Regions from separate parts of the Homo sapiens genome. Here region 1 is linked to region 2. A link means that fine-mapping ties the variant in region 2 to the expression of a gene that starts in the linked region. Tissue or cell type: adrenal gland. Region 2 holds a variant in brackets; the other region holds the start of a gene. All regions are shown on one strand. Distances are from middle to middle.

Region 1 (8,000 bases), 32 kb after region 2:
GTAAGGATGACAGTAAGGCACGCTGACAACGAGGACGGTGGTGACTGTGGAGACGCCGGGGGGAGTGCACTCGGCCTGGATGCCAGCCCCATGCTAAGCACGCCCCTCGGATCATCTCATCAAATATTCAAATATCGGGCTGGTGTGATCATTGCACCCCCTTTTCAGATGTGGAAACCAAGGCTTCAAGTCATGTGGCCAGGGAGACAGCCAGCAGGTGATGGAGCCAGGGTTCCAATCCAAACTGCAAACAGAGCCCAGCTGTCAGCCACAGTGAAGCGATGGCCAGCCCTGGCCTCCCTTACAGGCCTGTGGTGTCTACGGCCTGTGCCTGGACCGATGTGAGATGGCCAAATGAAGAGGCAGAGGCCTGGGTGACAAGACATCAGGCTCCCTGGGGCAGGTTTAACCCATATGCCCAGGGCTGTGAGGCGGTGGCGATGGCAGGGGTGCAGTGAGGCAGCTGGAGCCCCGAGCCCCAGGCCCACCCGTCCTGGGTTCTATCGCCCACTCTCTCTCCTCCCAGGATGGGGTGACCTGCCAGCCTCCCTGGGTGTGTTCCAGTAGCAGTGCCTGACCTAAAGGGTCGCAGAAAAGACCACAAAAAAAACCCCACACAGGGCTGGGGGGTGGGGCCAGGAAGTGCCTGCCCAGCCTTGGCCATCAGTGCTATTGTTCTCCCCATCCCTGGGGGAGGCCAGGCAGGGCACAGGGCCGTGAGCCTGAGGTAACTCGCCACAGTTGGACAGAGCAGGGTCTGGACCCAGGCCTGTCTGTCCCAGAACCTGTCTTGCTTGTTTTTTTTTTTTTTTGAGACAGAGTCTCACTCTGTCACCCAGGCTGGAGGGCAGTGGTATGATCTTAGCTCACTGCAACCTCCACCTCCTGGGTTCAAGCGATTCTCCTGCCTCAGCCTCCCAAGTAGCTGGGATTATAAGTGTGTGCCACTATACCCAGCTAGTTTTTTGTATTTTTGGTAGAGATGGGGTTTCACCATGTTGGCCAGGCTGGTCTCGAACACCTGACCTCAGGTGATCTGCCCGCCTCGGCCTCCCAAAGTGCTGGGATGACAGGCACGAGCCACTGCGCCCCGCCAGGCTAGCGGGCCTGTGTGTGTGCTGTCAGGCGTCGATGCTGGGATGGTGATGTGTCCCGACTGCAGGGAGAGGACCCGGGAAGCTCCGAGGTTGGTGACCTCTCCTGCCCCTCCTGTGTGTCTCTCCCCATGGCTGATGTGCAGCCCTCAGTGGATTCTGTGAGTCTTTCTAGTGAATGGTCAAACCTGAGGGTGGTCTTCGGAGCAGTTGCACGCTAACCCGACGCTGCTTGTCGTGAGCTAGGCCTGAACTGTAAGTGCTTCATGTGCACTGAGCCCTCGTCCCAACTCATGAAGCAGGCGCTGTGCTCCCATTTGATAGGGGAGGAGACTGAGGCACAGGGCGCTCATGCCTCTTGCCCACAGTCACCTGACTGGTGGGTGCTGGAGCTGGTCTGCTGCAGAGCCCTGGCTCTCACGTCCCATGCCACCCTGTTCCCAGCTCCTGAGTGCTACCGTCAGCTGGGCCAGATGGTGGGTGGCTGCTCAGGCTGTCTGGGCACAGCGGAAGGCTCCAGGGGGGCCGGGGGAGGGGCCATGACGCAGTGGGCTCACCGGTGGCAGGGACTGCACGATGTCACTGTGGTAGATGTAGCCGGTGTGGGGCAGCACTGAGGTAGACGAGAAGCCCGACAGCGTCTTGCGCTGGGCCCCGAGCAGCATGATGTTGCAGGCGGGCATCTTGGAGAGGTTGGTCAGGCCGCCGGCCACACCTGCGGTGGGAGGGAGGGAGGAAGGGGGGGCGGTCAGAAGAAAGCAGAGAGGTGGGGGTGAGTAAATCTGCCTGGGGGCTCGACGTGTGCTGGGCACCTTTACATGAAGTTCTGGTTGGATTCCTCGATGGCCCTGCCAGGCGGGCGACCTGGCCCATTCCGCAAGGGGCAGATGCAAAGGAGGCTCAGAGAGGGAGGGCAGCTGGCCTGGGGGTGCAGGGAGGAGGCCCCCAACAGGAAGCTGACCACCACGTTTGTGCTAAGCCACACTAACGCCGTTCCAGGGATGGCTGTGTTTTGGAACCATTTTCACCAAACCAGGAGCTCCCTGACAACAGGGCCTGGGTGTGGTCATCTCTGGGTTTCCGGCACAGGGGAGGGAGAAGGAGCTGTGGGTGAGTGTTTTTCCCACAGATGAGGCTTTGCTGTGTGCCAGGCTGGCTGACCTCTGTGATGTCCAGGGAGACGGGGTGCTGAGGTCCAGGTGCCAAAGCCCCCATTCTACAGAAAAGGATGTAGCTTTCCCAAGGTCACAGTGTCAGCAGACCCCCGCTCCATGGGACCCAGCCCGGGGACTCACCCATGATCTTGGCGGCCGTGGATGCCCCGATAATGATGGACAGGTTGGGTGCGATGAAGGACATCCGGGACTCCACATACTCGTAGATGCGGTGCTTGGAGGCGTTCAGCTCCAGCGCCATGTCGCAGGCCTCCTCCAGCCGCTCCAGCTCCTCCTCCGACAGCTGCTGCCTGCAGGGGCGGGTGGGCCCAGCCTCCTGGGTCTCCCGCCTGCCTGGTGTGCCCAGCCCCAGCCCTCTCGGTTCTGTGTGTGTGTGTGCATGTGTGTATGTGTGTGTGCGTGTGTACACCTGCGTGTGTAGCTCCAGCCTAATCCCCAATCCCATTAGGGCCCGGCGCCTCCCTCGAAGCGGACATACCCCTGGGTGGTGGAGGCGGTGACGCTGACGACCATGATGGTGGCATTGGTGAGGATCTGCTGCAGGTTCTCATTGTTCTTGCACTTGTCCAGGCTGTTGCCCAGCTCCTGGGGGCGAGCAGAGAAGATAGGGGAGGCTCGGGAACTCAGGAAGGCTCGAGAACCTCTCTTGCTCAGCACCTCCTCAGGTCTCTTCTTAGGGACACTGGGACAGTCAGGGTCTCTGCACTGGGGGCCTCTCCTGCCTCCACCGCCTGAAGCATCCACACCATTCCTGCCTCCACCACGTCAAGCATCCACACCATCTGCCCTGCTTTCGCTGACCTGGAAACGGAGCCCGGGCAGAGTGGCGTCTGGAAAGACTGTGGCCTCACAAGCCTCTGGCCTGCGTCAAGTCGGAGTGCAAATCCGCGGCCTCGCTTCCCTGCAGGGGCTTCCCCACCGCCATCCTAATCCTTTCCTGGACATGCGTGGGGACCTCCTCCTCTCCCCGCCCTCACGCACACCTGCCCCTCTTTTCCGAAACCCTTCCTTGGCTTTCTCCTAAGACCCAAAGGCTGGACGTGATCCGACCTCTTCCCCGTCCCCTCCTTCCCCGCCTCACTTCCTCCCCACTTGTTCCCTCTCCAGCTCTCTGCACTTAGACGTCTCTCTCCCCCAAATCTCCGTGTGCCTGCCCTGTGTCAACCTTCGGATGTCAACTCCAATGCCACCGGCTCCAACCACAGCGGGAGCAGCGTGGGTCAGGCCAGCGGGGAAGCCCTCTCGGGAGACTGGGGTTGGAGGGGAGCCCTGAGAAAGTCCTGTCCAGGCTCCGTCCCTCCCACGCTGGGCAGAGCAGACCACTGAGCCCTCGTCCACTCCTCTCCATCGTCTCCAGACCCTCAGGCCTCTGGGAGGGGGTCCGAGAGTGAGCCCCGCCTGCCCCTTCACGCCAGCAGAAGCACCCCACCTTCTCTGCGCTCACCTTGACCGTGCGGATGTAATCCAGTGCATTGGGGACCAAGGACTCCAGTTCAGGGAATCTCTTTGAGTACTTATCCCGGATGAACTTATGGATGATGTCTAGGGTAAACGGGACAGGAGGTTGTCGGGTGAGATGGAAGGTAGACTCTGCTGGTTGGCCCTAACACCCATGTCCCCTTCTTCCTTTAGTAACTGAAGCCCTGGCTTGTGGCCTGGCACACGGGCACCAGCATACAGCCTTTCTCAGCCGTCCTTACCGCTAGGTGTGACCAGGGGAATTAGTTCTGGTCTGTAAAACGTGAGCTGCAGTGACATGTTCTTAAAGAAAAGAAGCGCCTTGCTGGTGGGAATGCGGAGGTGATGGCTGGAGGTGGGGCAGTCACCTCGCACCGTGAGGCAGGTGGCCGACCAACAGGATGGAAAGAGCCGGGGCCCTACAGGCAGCCAAGCGGCCACACCATCCCCGAGTGCTCCTCAGACTCATACGCGAGAGAACGCACTTCCTTCTTATTTCAGCCACTCTGTGACAGCAGGTCAACCTCGATCTGAGCTTGGGCTTAGGGGCAGGACCCTGGGAAAGGCCAGTGGGGAAGGGAGAGGGGGCGTGAGGGACGTCACACGGGGCTGTCTCCGCCTGCCCCCCAGCACTCACTCAGCTCGTTTTCGATCTCCACGGTCAGGTTGTTGGCATCCACGATGACGCGGTATTCAGGCGCGGCCTCCACTGGTCCCATCACTGTGAGGACACGGAGGCATGGGTGTGAGTATCTAAATCCCTACCCCCTCTCGGGTCCCGCAGCTGGAGGAGGCGGAGGATGAAGTTGGGAGGGGTCAGGAAGGAGGGGCTGAAGAGTAAACCAGGGACAGGCTGATGTCTGCAGACATCCCTGAACTTGTGTTCCTGCCTTCAATCCCTCTCCCTCCACACCAGTCTAGACTTGACCCCATCTACCCCAGAACTGACCGTGTGAAACCTCCTACGGCTCCCCACAGCCCCAAGGCTAATGACCGAGTCCTCAGACTGACATTCAGGGCCTCCCCAACTCCGGAAGCTCTGCAGGGACCAGTGCTGTGCCTGCGTTGGCTGTACCCACAGCCGAGTACCCAGGACAGCACCTGGCACACAGGGAGTTCCCCCGTTCCTGTTTGCTGACTCAGCAGCTCTGCAGTCTGGCCTCCCGCCCTTCCCGCCCCATCCTCTCACCACACCTCATTTTATTCCACTCCAGCCATAAAGGAGTGATCACAGTGCCCCAGACACCCACTCCTCCTAGCCTTTTTTTTTTTTTTTTGAGACATAATTTCGCTCTGGTTGCCCAGGCTAGAGTATAGTGGCATGATCTCAGCTCACTGCAACCTCCGCCTCCTGGGTTCAAGCGATTCTCCTGCCTCAGCCTCCTGAGTAGCTGGGATTACAGGCATGTGCCACCATGCCCGGCTAATTTTTTTTGTTTGTTTGTATTTTTAGTAGAGACGGGGTTTCACCATGTTGGGCAGGCTGGTCTCGAACTCCCGACCTCAGGTGATCCATCTGCCTTGACCACCCAAAGTGCTGGGATGACAGGCGTGAGCCACCGCGCCAGACCCCTCCTGGCCTCTGCATGTGCTGCTCCCTCTCCCCAGAGCATCCCTTACCCCACGTCTGTTTCTGGAAAACGCTTCTTTGTGCTTTAGTAATAAGAGGTCAGGCACAGTGGCTCATACCTGTAATCCCAGCACTTTGGGAGGCTGAGGCAGGAGAACTGCTTGAGCCCAGGAGTTGGAGAGCAACCTGGGCGACATAGGGAGACCCCATCTCTACACATAATTAAAGAAAAAAAATTAGCCAGGCATGGTGGTGTACACCTGTGGTCCCAGCTGCCTGGGAGGCTGAGGCAGGAACGCCTGAGCCCACAAGGTCAAGGCTGCAGTGAGCTGGGATCGTGCCACTGCATTCTGGCCTGGGTGACAGAGTGAGACCCTGTCTCAAAAAACAAACAAACAAAAAGATGTTGTGTTTAAAAGTCATGCAAATACTAACTGCCTGATGTCACAGCCAGTAGAAGGCAGAGCTCAGATCTGACACCAGGCAGGGCGGCGTCAGAGTCTGCACTCCTAACCCTGATGCTCAAATGGCTCTTTAAGTCCTTAAGACTCAGGCAGCGACTCAGAATCCTTCCCTCCCTTTCTGGAAGGATCAGACGCCTCCTCTGTGTACCCGCAGCACTTGTGCACCTCCAGTAAACAGGGACTGCCACAGCTTGTGAGATGTTTCACCTCTGCCTCCTCAACCAGACACCGGGTGTGACGGGGTCTGACTCCATCCCTGAGCCTGGCCTGACATCAGGAAATGTCACTTTCTGTGTCCCATAACCCTCTGGAGGGAGAAATTCCTTGGCCTGGCATCTGGAACTCTGCAGGATTCTCTCTCCGGATATCTGAGGCCCCGGGCCTGCCGCTGTCTTTCCCTGGGCCCCCTTCTCCCTTTCTTTGCCTGGCACATGCATTCATGCTCTACAGTCCAATTCAGCTATCGATTCTTCCTGACACCTGGGGCAGGGTCAGCCAGTCCCTCCTGTGGCTCCGGTGTCCCCAGCTTGGTACCACCACTGATAGCTGTCTGGAACCTGGCCTGCCTCTTCCACTAGACCTTGAGTACTTTGAGAGCAAAGACCTGGGCGATTCAACTGGGTGCCCAGGTAAACGTTAAAGAAAGCAAGCAGTGAGTCTCCCGAAACTCTGCCCTCTCACTACACTTCTTTCCCCAGAAACCTCCTATGGCTTCCTGTCATCAACAAATTCCATTCAAGAAGAATGGGAAGGCTGGGCGTAGTGGCTCATGCCTGTAATCCCAGCACTTTGGGAGGCCGAGGTGGGCGGATTACTTGAGGTCAGGAGTTCGAGACTAGCCTGGTCAACATGGTGAAACCCCATCTCTACTAAAAAATACAAAATAGCCAGGCATGGTGTTGCATACCTGTAATCCCAGCTATACATAAGGCTGAGGGAGGAGAATCGCTTGAACCCGGGAGGTGGAGGTTGCAATGAGCCAAGAACACATCACTGCACTCCAGCCTGGGCGACAGAGGGAGACTCTATCTCAAGGAAAAAAAAAAAAGAATAGGAATGGTAACAGGACTGCCCTCTTAAGAGTGAGTCTGAGCACTCATGAGATAAGCTAGTGTTCTCTCAATTTGGGCATGAGAAAAGGTTTTAGGTTATTTTTTTTTTTTTTGAGACGGAGTCTTGCTCTGTCGCCCAGGCTGGAGTGCAGTGGCACGATCTCGGCTCACTGCAAGCTCCGCCTCCCAGGTTCACGCCATTCTCCCGCCTCAGCCTCCTGAGTAGCTGGGACTACAGGCACCCGCCACCACGCCTGGCTAATTTTTTGTATTTTTAGTAGAGACGGGGTGTCACCGTGTTAGCCAGGATGGTCTCGATCTCCTGAACTCATGATCCACCTGCCTCCGCCTCCCAAAGTGCTGGGATTACAGGCGTGAGCCACGGCGCCCGGCCTTAGGTGGTTCCTAAATAATTATATATCTATTTTTATACAGTGACTTTGTCTTTGCCAAATGATACCAGTTTTCCATTCATGGTAGCAATTTGCTTCCTTCTCAGATAAATTTAAGAAAAAAAGTCCTAGACTCAAAGAATATGTTAAGCAAATAATAGGATAAGCGGCTTATAGATGTGGCAAAAACCCTGTAACCGGTCATGTGAATCAGTGAAGTCTGGGAAACCTCAAGCTGAGTCCTATCATGATCAGTAAGCTCAGCACACAGGAAGGACTTAAGAAGCATGAGCTTTACAATGCAATATATATTTAGTGGAAAAGGGAACGGGTTGGGGTGAAACAAAAAAAAAAGAAGGCTCTGGAAAAGGCTGAGAAGGAGATATACCCAGCCACAAGCAGCCAGGGAGCCAGGGGGCCTGGCAGGAGAGACAGGAGATGGGGAGGGGCACAGAGTGGGAGGAAGCACCTTCTGAAGCTTTGGCTTGCTTGCTGATATACTCCTCAATCTTCATCATAATCTCAGCAAACTGTAGGAAAGGAGAAGACAGTCAGAATCCAGCACTCTTCAAAAAGAAGCCTGTATCACCCCCTTCTGGGAGATTCTGTCTAGAGCCCCCTGCTAGGAACACCTCTTGTCCTCTTACCATCTTACTATCCCATAGCTTGGCGATGGTCTTGACTGAATCCCCGGAAAGATCCAGCTGTGTCTCCTCCTGCACATCCTCGATCGCTGGCTCCTCTTCTTCCTCCCCATAGCTTCCTCCTTCCTCCTCTTCTGCTGCCTCTTCGAGA
Region 2 (8,227 bases):
AGGCAGGGGACAGGGCTTCAGCAGACTTGGGGTAGTCACTTGGAGCCATGGCTAGAATTCAGATCGTCTGGCCTAATGCATACCTTTATGGCTGTTTTAATTGTCTCACTTGAGGTTAGGAACCCCTTTGGTTTAGGCCAGGGACCTCCTCCCATACATCCTTGATGACCCGTGGTTTACTATTTGAAAGGGAGTTTACAAAACCCAGGCGTTGCCTCATCTGCCTACCCTCACCCCCAGCTAGGACAGGTGCCTCTTTTAGGCGCCTAGTGCTCCCTTTCTCATAACCCCAGCACCCTGGACTGCCATTTTCTGTGGTGGGCACCAGACTCACAGTTCTTGAATTACCTCTAGGTTCTGAATGTCCTGCCTATAACTTTCTCCCCAGGCCCGTACAGAATTCCTACGGAAGAAAGCCAGACATCAGAACTCACTGCCTGAGCTTGAAGCAGCAGAGGCGGGAGCCCCAGGTTCTGGCCCTGTGGACCTGTTTCGGGAGCTGCTGGAGGAAGGGAAAGGAGTGATCAGAGGCAATAAAGAGTACAAGGAAGAAAAGCGACAGGAGAAAGTAAGCTGGCCTCACCCACTTCATCAGAGGGGCCATGAATCGAGTTGGAGGGAGGGGGCACTTTAGCCATTGGTTGTGACCAAGGTCAAACAAGAGTGAACACACAGAATTTAGGACCATACCAAGGCATGACACTCAAAAAGCGTTGGCTATTGCCGTCTGGGCGCCCACAGGGGTTGGAGGTAGATGCTAGAGGTCCCCAGCTGCTGGGCAAACCGCTCAGTTCTCCAAACTGGAGGAGTCTCAAACCTGATGGGCTTTTAAAAATTTAAATCAGCCGGCTGTGGCTCACGCCTGTAATCCCACCACCTTGGGAGGCTGAGGCGGGTGGATCACCTGAGGTCAGGAGTTCAAGACCAGCCTGGTCAACATGGTATCTCTAAAAATACAAAAAAAATTAGCCGGGCATGGTGGTGCGCGCCTGTAATCCCAGGGAGGCTGAAGCAGGAGAATCGCTTGACCCAGGAGGTGGAAGCTGCAGTAAGCCGAGATTGCGCCACTGCACTCCAGCCTGGGTGACAGAGCGAGACCCCATCTCAAAACAATCAAACAAAAAGTGAATCAATCGCCTCTTGCTTTTTGGCTAAGATCAAGTGTAAAAGGTACATCAGTGGCTGTGCATGGTGGCTCACGCCTGTAATCCCAGCACTTTGGGAGGCCAACGTGGGTGGATCACCTGAGGTCAGAAGTTCAAGACCAGCCTGGCCAAACATGGCAAAACCCCGTCTCTACTAAAAATACAAAAATTAGCTGGGCATGGTGGTGTGTGCCTGTAATCCCAGCTACTCGGGGGGCTGAGGTAGGAGGATTGCTTGAACCTGGGAAGCAGAGGTTGCAGTGAGCCGAGATCGTGCCACTGCACTCGAGTCTGGGCAACAGAGCGAGACTCCATCTCAAAAAAAAGAGGTACATCAGCTCTTGTCATTTATCTGCTGTCTCTGGACTTGCTGACCCCACCCATCGCTCCTCTGCTTTGCTTGATCCCTTCAGGCTTCTCTTCAAGTCTCTCTGCAAAGATGCCTGCCTCTGAACACTCAAGTGGCTCCACTTGTCCCCTCCTTCCCCTGCTGTTACTGTACCTGCTACTGTCCCCCCAGGGGGAGCTTTGCCTCTGTTTGTCTTCCATCCCCAGCACCTGGTCCAACTGGTTCATAACAAGCCTTAGATACCTGTTCGCTTAGATACCTGTGTCAGGGAGACACACCTGACACCTTGAAAGATTATATCACATCTCTTGTATTTCCTGGCCCCCTCAGGAGAGGCAAGAGAAAGCTCTGGGCATCCTGACATACCTGGGCCAGAGTGCAGCGGAGGCACAGACTCAACCCCCTTGGTACCAGCTACCCCCAGGGCGAGGGGGCCCCCCGCCCGGCCCAGCCCCAGATGAGAAGATCAAGAGCCGTCTGGACCCTCTGCGGGAGATGCAGAAGCATCTGGGGAAGAAGAGACAGCACGGCGGTGATGAAGGCAGTCGCAGCAGAAAGGAAAAGGAGGGGTCTGAGAAGCAGCGACCCAAGGAGTAAGAAGACCCCACCTCGGCAGACCAGGGCCCAGACCTTCAGGGCTTGGCAGCAGCCCAGCATGGGCACTGCAGCGTCTCTGGTCAGGACAGCCAGGGACTCCGTGAAGGGCTGGCTAGGTGGAGAAGTGGTTCTCAGCATGTGGTCCAGGGAGCCCTAGGGGTCCTGACACCCTTTCCCGGGGTGCTGTGGTGTCAAGCCTATTTTCCTGACACTGGTGGACTTTTCCACTCGTGTTCTCAGGCATGTAGTGCAGGTTTCCAGAGGCTGTGTGATGGGGAGACACCCTCACTCTGATGGCCAATGGCAGATGCTTGTGTCCAAACTTTCTTAGTTTTCACTAATGATTTGCAGCATATTAAGAGAACCCATTTAAACAAAAGCTCTTGGGGTCCTTGGTTTTTAAGAGTATAAAGGGGTCCTGAGACCAAAGAGTTTGAGAGCTGCTGGGTTAGAGAGTAAAAGCAGGCTTCTGTCTCCAGGATGCTGCACCCCTGGTCTAGAGGGGGTACACTGCCTGTAGTCTTCTTTCCTCTAGAAAGGGAAACTGAGGGCCAGGGGGCTGCTAAGTGTGCTTTCTTGACCTGGAGAAGCATCAGATTTTAAAGACTGGGGAGGACCAAAGCCCACAGAAGGGAAGGCCAGAGACGTGCCCATGGCGTCCCAGCACCAAGTGGCTGCTTCCAGCAGGCCTAAGGAGCTGAGGCTGGGGTGTGCTGGATGCAGCGGGGCTTCCAGGCGGCAGCTCCCTCTATGGGAGAGGTTGGGGGAATGGCCTCCTAGGGGCTACCAGCTTTCTGACCTCACTCCTCTCCCCACAGGCCTCCATCCCTGGACCAGCTTCGAGCTGAACGTCTGCGGAGGGAAGCAGCTGAGAGGTCTCGGGCAGAGGCCCTGCTGGCCCGGGTCCAAGGCCGGGCACTACAGGAGGGTCAGCCGGAAGAAGACGAGACGGATGACCGGCGGCGGCGGTACAACTCCCAATTCAACCCCCAGCTGGCCCGGCGCCCCCGCCAGCAGGACCCTCACCTTACTCACTGACTCCTGAGGGGGTACAGGAGAGGCCGCTGCTGCCAGCCGTCATATAAAACTATTTATTCATAAATATTTTCCAAAATGAAAATAGGTTTACCAAAAAATGTCCCTCACTGGGGAGGGGAGGAGGGGGCAGCCCTCGCCCCCGGGCCCCCAGGGTGGGGCTGAGAGGAAAACCTCCCGGCCCCCTCCCTGCTTCCTGGGAGAGGGGGATGCCCCGTGGCTTGGGGCCTCCCTCCAGTCTTCCAGGGCAGGGCCCTCACCTGGGCAGGGGGATCAGCATGCGGGGGAAGGGGGTGGGTAGAGGGAGGGGCCGGTGTCACTGGAGGTCCCGGTCCTCCAGGTAGCGGTACTCAAAGGTGAAGCCTTCCTTCTTCCGCTGGCCCCACTTCTCGTAGTCAAAGTAGATGTAGGTGCCCTGGCCGGGGGAGAAGGCGGTCAGTGAGTGGACGAGGAGGTGGTCTGGGATCTGGGCCGGACCAACAGACAAAGGGGACAATTCTTAGGGCTGTGGATGTGTCAGGCACCGGGCCAGCTGCCCTGCACGCACACACTCTCATCCATCCTCACAAGGTTCTTCTTGGGTAGGAAATGTTATCATGCCACTTCAGCGAGGAGGAAACGGAGGGGGCCGCAGAGGTTCCACCGAAGCCAGCTGCCAGAACGGGGCCCCAGCCCCAGGTGTGAGTGCACAGCCTTCGTTTCCTCGAGGGCTGTGGCTTTTGAGCACCTCTCACGTGAGTACAGGATGCACAGCCTAGCATTTAATCTTCACAAAGACCTCGAGGCAGTGGGTACTGTCACCCTTGTTCTAGAGAATGGAACAGTCTCAGAGTCTAAATCCAAGCACTCTGCAGGGACATTTTATTGGTGACG[A/GA]AGTGGTGTGGGAATTTCTGAATGACTGGATGCCCTGAAATGTACTAACTTGGAGGATGGTTTTGGGCCAAACCAGGAAAGGACAGGAAGTCTGTGGTTAACATCTGAGGACACAATGGGAGAGGACCTAGGTTCTAAATGAATGTCTTAAGTGCTTCAAAGATGGCAACCTGGGAGAACCAGGAGAGGGGACTGAGTTCTCTGAGGACAAGGACCTTGTACTACTTCATCCCCATGAAGGGGCTCGGCATCAGGGAAGTATTTGGTGGAAAAAAACATCACTGTAGAACACACCAACTGAAAGTAATTTGAAAAAAAAAATCCATGACACTGACTATGTAGCAGTCACCATTAAGTACTTACATGTTATTAACTCATTTAATCTTCATAACAACTGCATTAGGTAGGTGGTCTTCCCCCCATTTTTACAGATAAGTTAATTGAGACACAGAGGTTCGAGTGACTTGCCTAGAGTCGCCCAGCTGGACTGGGCTGAAACCCAGGTAGGTTGGTTCCAGAGTGTTTGCAAGCAGCAGGAATTTCCCAGTATTAGAACTTGAGAAGCCCATTCAAAAAAAATAGTTTCCGCACTGAGCCCCTGCCCTGCTGAGTGCTGGGACCTGGAGGTGAAGTGGGGGCCATCAAGGTCCCTCGGCAGCAGAGCCCACAGCCTGGTGCAGGGACACATACTGGGAAAATCCCACACCCCAGGCGAGTGTGCCCAGCACTGCAAAGGGGAGGCACTGGGCTGGGTGGCTCCAGGAAGGTTTCTTTGAGGAAGGGACATTTGGGCTGAGACCTACAGGAGGCCTAGGAGCTGGCCAAGTGGAGGATGAGAGGGCGGTGTTCCAGGCTGAGCAGACAGCCAGAGGGAGGAGTACTTGGTCAGGCTGAGGGACTGCGCCAGCTGAAAGGTGGAGGCAAGGGAGCAGAGGCCAGCAGGGGCTGCCTGGAGCCTGGGGACTCTACCCCAACCCTAGCAGCGGGAAGAGAGGGGGCGGGGCCCTCACCTGCTCAAACTCGTCAGTGATGGTCTTGGGCTCCTCGTGCCTCTGGAACCACATCATGTACTTGGTGTGGAATCGCCATGACTGCTTCTTTAGGGCCTTGGCTGCCAGATACTGTGCCTTAGTGCCCTGGGGGAGGAACAGTGGAGAGGGGGATCAGGGGGCCCCCAAACTGGGTGGGGAGCCAGGGGAATGGGGCAGGACATCAGGGCTGAACCCCGGCCCCCGCCACAGACCACAGTTGGGCTGGACAATCCTCTTGGAGATGGGGCTGGGGGCACAGAACATACCAATGCTGATCAGGAGAAGGAAAATGAGACAGGAGGTGAAAATTGCTTTCAGAGAAGCTTTGAGAAGGAAGAAAAACTAATGTGTGATGAGAGCTGAGAGAGGAGGCAATTTAGAAAATTTCCCAAGTGGGGATGAGGGTGGAGGTCACTCATGACTCACTGGGGTTGGGAGGGGGCTGGACAGCTCCCCAGTGGTCTCCAGGGAGGCCTGAGAATGTGCCAATGAGCAGAGTGGGGTCGGCCTAGACTGGGGCTGCTGGAGCAGGGCTGGGGAGGGGCCGCGGGTGAGCCAGTGGGCAACTGGAAGCGGGGCTGAGGTGTGCCTCAGTGGACCAGCCTCGCTGTCAACCCAAGCAGTTCTAACATCTCTGGGCTGGAAGGCGGGGACGGGGACAGGTGGATTTGGGGCAGGGGCCCAGGAGTGGGAATAGGGAGGGGGTGCGGTCCCAGTGGCCGCAGTGGGGCACCCACCTCACCCCTCCAGCCCGAGGGGGGACGGCGGCGGTGGCGGCGAAGCCGGGGGGCCCGAGGCTGCCCCGGGGGCCCTGCTGTACCTCCAGATAGTAGAAGATGAAGAAGAGTGTCTCGGTCGACAGGCGCTGGTAGAATTCCACAGTGTCCGAGTGTGGGGGTGGCATCTGGTGGTGGTAGGGGGGCGTCGGACAGGGGTTCCGGGGGAGGTACTGCCTGTGAGAGCAACAGGAAGGTCAGTGCCAGCTGCCTACTAGTCCTGTCGTGATCAAAAGGGTGCTCAGACATGCATCCCTGCGGGGGGAGGTGGTACAGAAAGACCCAGGGCGGTGCTGACCTTCAGTGGAGAGCCCAAGTCAGGGGCCTGGTGCTCTACCCACAGCCTCACAGGTTCAGCCACTGCCTCCTCCGTAAGACTCAAGTCCCAGACCATCCCCCTTCCCTGTGGCCCCTCACCGAATACGCTCAGAGTCAGAGGGGTGAGGCATGTGGTGCCAGGCGGCCTCTTCCATGGCCTGCTGATAGAGCTGCTCCTTGGTGAGGGGCACAGGGCCCAGTGGACAGACACCCAGCGACAGCGGTATGTTCACCTCTGACAGCTGCAGGGGCGGCTGGGCTGAGGCCGGAGGTGCTGATGTACTGCTCAGGATGATGTCTGTGGGGAGGGTGGGGGTCCGGCCCCCTCAGTGGTGAGGATGGGTCAGGGGCAGCCCCTCCTCTTTGGCCCGCTGCTTCCCCACCATCCTGGGTCCCTCACCTCGCTCGGTCAGGTGCAGCGTTGGCACAGGGTCCTCAATGCCAGAGCTGATGGCTGCCCGTTCCGCCATGGACTTCAAGGAGCTCAGAGGCTCAGGGGCCTGGGGAGGAAACAAGAGGCCTGGCCTGAGCACTTGGGCTGCAGGAGCAAGTGCAGCCTGACACAGGCCCCAGATGCTCTCACCTGCCCTGTTTGGGGGCCGTGGAGGGCCAACGACCCACTCCCCACAATCTACCCATGACAGGTAAAAGCATCAAACTGTAGGGAAACAATCGGAGACCACGACGCATTCATCAGCAGAGGAACGTCTCGTGAGTGGGACTCTGCAGCATGGAATACTACGCCGAGATTTTCAAAATACAAGTTCGTGACATACTACAGAAGTAAACGCCAACCTGCAGAATATGTACAGTGCGCTACCATTTTTGTCAAAGGATGTGCCAATAGTACACGCTCCTTCACTAGGGACACCTACACGCTGGGAGAGCTCCCGCCTGTCTTGAAGGAGGCAGGAGGTCTACATGCTCAGCTGTCTGCCTGTGACTGGCATGGGGTGACTGGAATCGGGGTGGGCCCAGCCCGGCTAGGCTTCAGTCTCCTTGCTGGAAACAGGTAGGTTGGGTCTCCAGCCCCGCAGCCACAGCCTCGTTTCCTATTACAAAGGTTACAGCAGGCTTCTGTTCCCCAAAGTCAGGGCTGGTTCCTCCCATCTCCTCCAGCCACGTGCAGCTGTCCCAAACCCCAGCCCTGTGCTGGACTCTCCACAACGAGTCAGTCGCCAAGGCTTATCCATCCTGTCTCGCTATATCGCCCAGGCAGGTCTCAAACTCCTGGGCTCAAGCTATCCTCCCGCCTCTGCCTCCCTAAGAGCTGGGATTACAGGTGTGAGCCACCACGCCCAGCTATCCGTCCTGCTTCTAAACCCCACTGGATGGCTCCCTTCCCTGTCGTGCCACCATGTCCCACACAGCCCAGGCCTGTCCTCTCCTGCCCAGACCACCCTCCCTCTATCCTGTCCTCACCAGCCCCAGGGGACCTTTCCAATGAAGTCATGTTGTTCCTTCTCTACTCCAAACCTTGCCATGGTTCCCGACCACCCACCCCAGCGATTCATTTTTGTTGTTGGTGGTGTTAAAAGATATGGACCCCTTCTGAAAATCTCAAAGCTGCTGTTTCCCTTTTTCCAGAAAAATGCACGCACTATAAATATCCTGTCCACCTACTTCTAAAATTTGGGCCGGGCACGGTGGCTCACACCTGTAATCCCAGCACTTTGGGAGGTCAAGGTGGGTGGATCACCTGAGGTTCGGAGTTCAAGACCTGCCTGACCAACATGGCAAAACCCCATCTCTATTAAAAATATAAAAATTAGCCTGGCGTGGTGGCAGGCGCCTGTAATCCCAGCTACTCAGTAGGCTGCGGCAGGAGAATCGCTTGAACCCAGGAGGCGGATGTTGCATTCAGCTGAGATTGCACCACTGCACTCCAGCCTGGGTGACAGAGCAAGACTCTGTCTCAAAAAAGAAAAAAAAAAAAAATTAATGCTTCTGTTGGGCCAGAAACTGTTCCAAGAGCTTTATGAGGATGATTTAGTCTTCCAAATAACCCTACATAGTAGGTATAATCGTGACTATTGCCGTTTCCCAGATGAAGGCACAGAAAGGACAATGCCAAGACTTGGACCTGGACAGCCTGGGCGCGCA

Evidence for each region. PIP is the estimated chance that this variant, and not a neighbour inherited with it, causes the effect.
Region 1: PRPF31-AS1 starts here. The variant in region 2 is fine-mapped to the expression of PRPF31-AS1 in adrenal gland (GTEx, PIP above 0.99).

The regions. Positions count from the first base shown.
Region 1 is chr19:54,118,308-54,126,307 of GRCh38, reverse strand. It overlaps PRPF31-AS1 (PRPF31 antisense RNA 1), which reads left to right and starts at 3,666. Exons shown (of 4, transcript NR_186329.1): 1 at 3,666-3,816; 2 at 3,902-4,245; 3 at 4,393-4,472; 4 at 5,916-6,798. PRPF31 (pre-mRNA processing factor 31) reads right to left here. Exons shown (of 14, transcript NM_015629.4): 2 at 7,853-8,000; 3 at 7,675-7,735; 4 at 4,365-4,448; 5 at 3,714-3,811; 6 at 2,748-2,854; 7 at 2,390-2,559; 8 at 1,652-1,809.
Region 2 is chr19:54,150,623-54,158,849 of GRCh38, reverse strand. It overlaps CNOT3 (CCR4-NOT transcription complex subunit 3), which reads right to left. Exons shown (of 18, transcript NM_014516.4): 14 at 6,525-6,624; 15 at 6,224-6,422; 16 at 5,851-5,983; 17 at 5,010-5,135; 18 at 3,169-3,541. The coding sequence ends at 3,443. It overlaps LENG1 (leukocyte receptor cluster member 1), which reads left to right. Exons shown (of 4, transcript NM_024316.3): 2 at 389-568; 3 at 1,825-2,087; 4 at 2,910-3,689. The coding sequence ends at 3,129. It overlaps LOC102724273 (a long non-coding RNA gene), which reads left to right and starts at 6,623. Exons shown (of 4, transcript XR_001754001.3): 1 at 6,623-7,136; 2 at 8,172-8,227. The variant A/GA (reference allele first, on the strand shown) is at 4,000.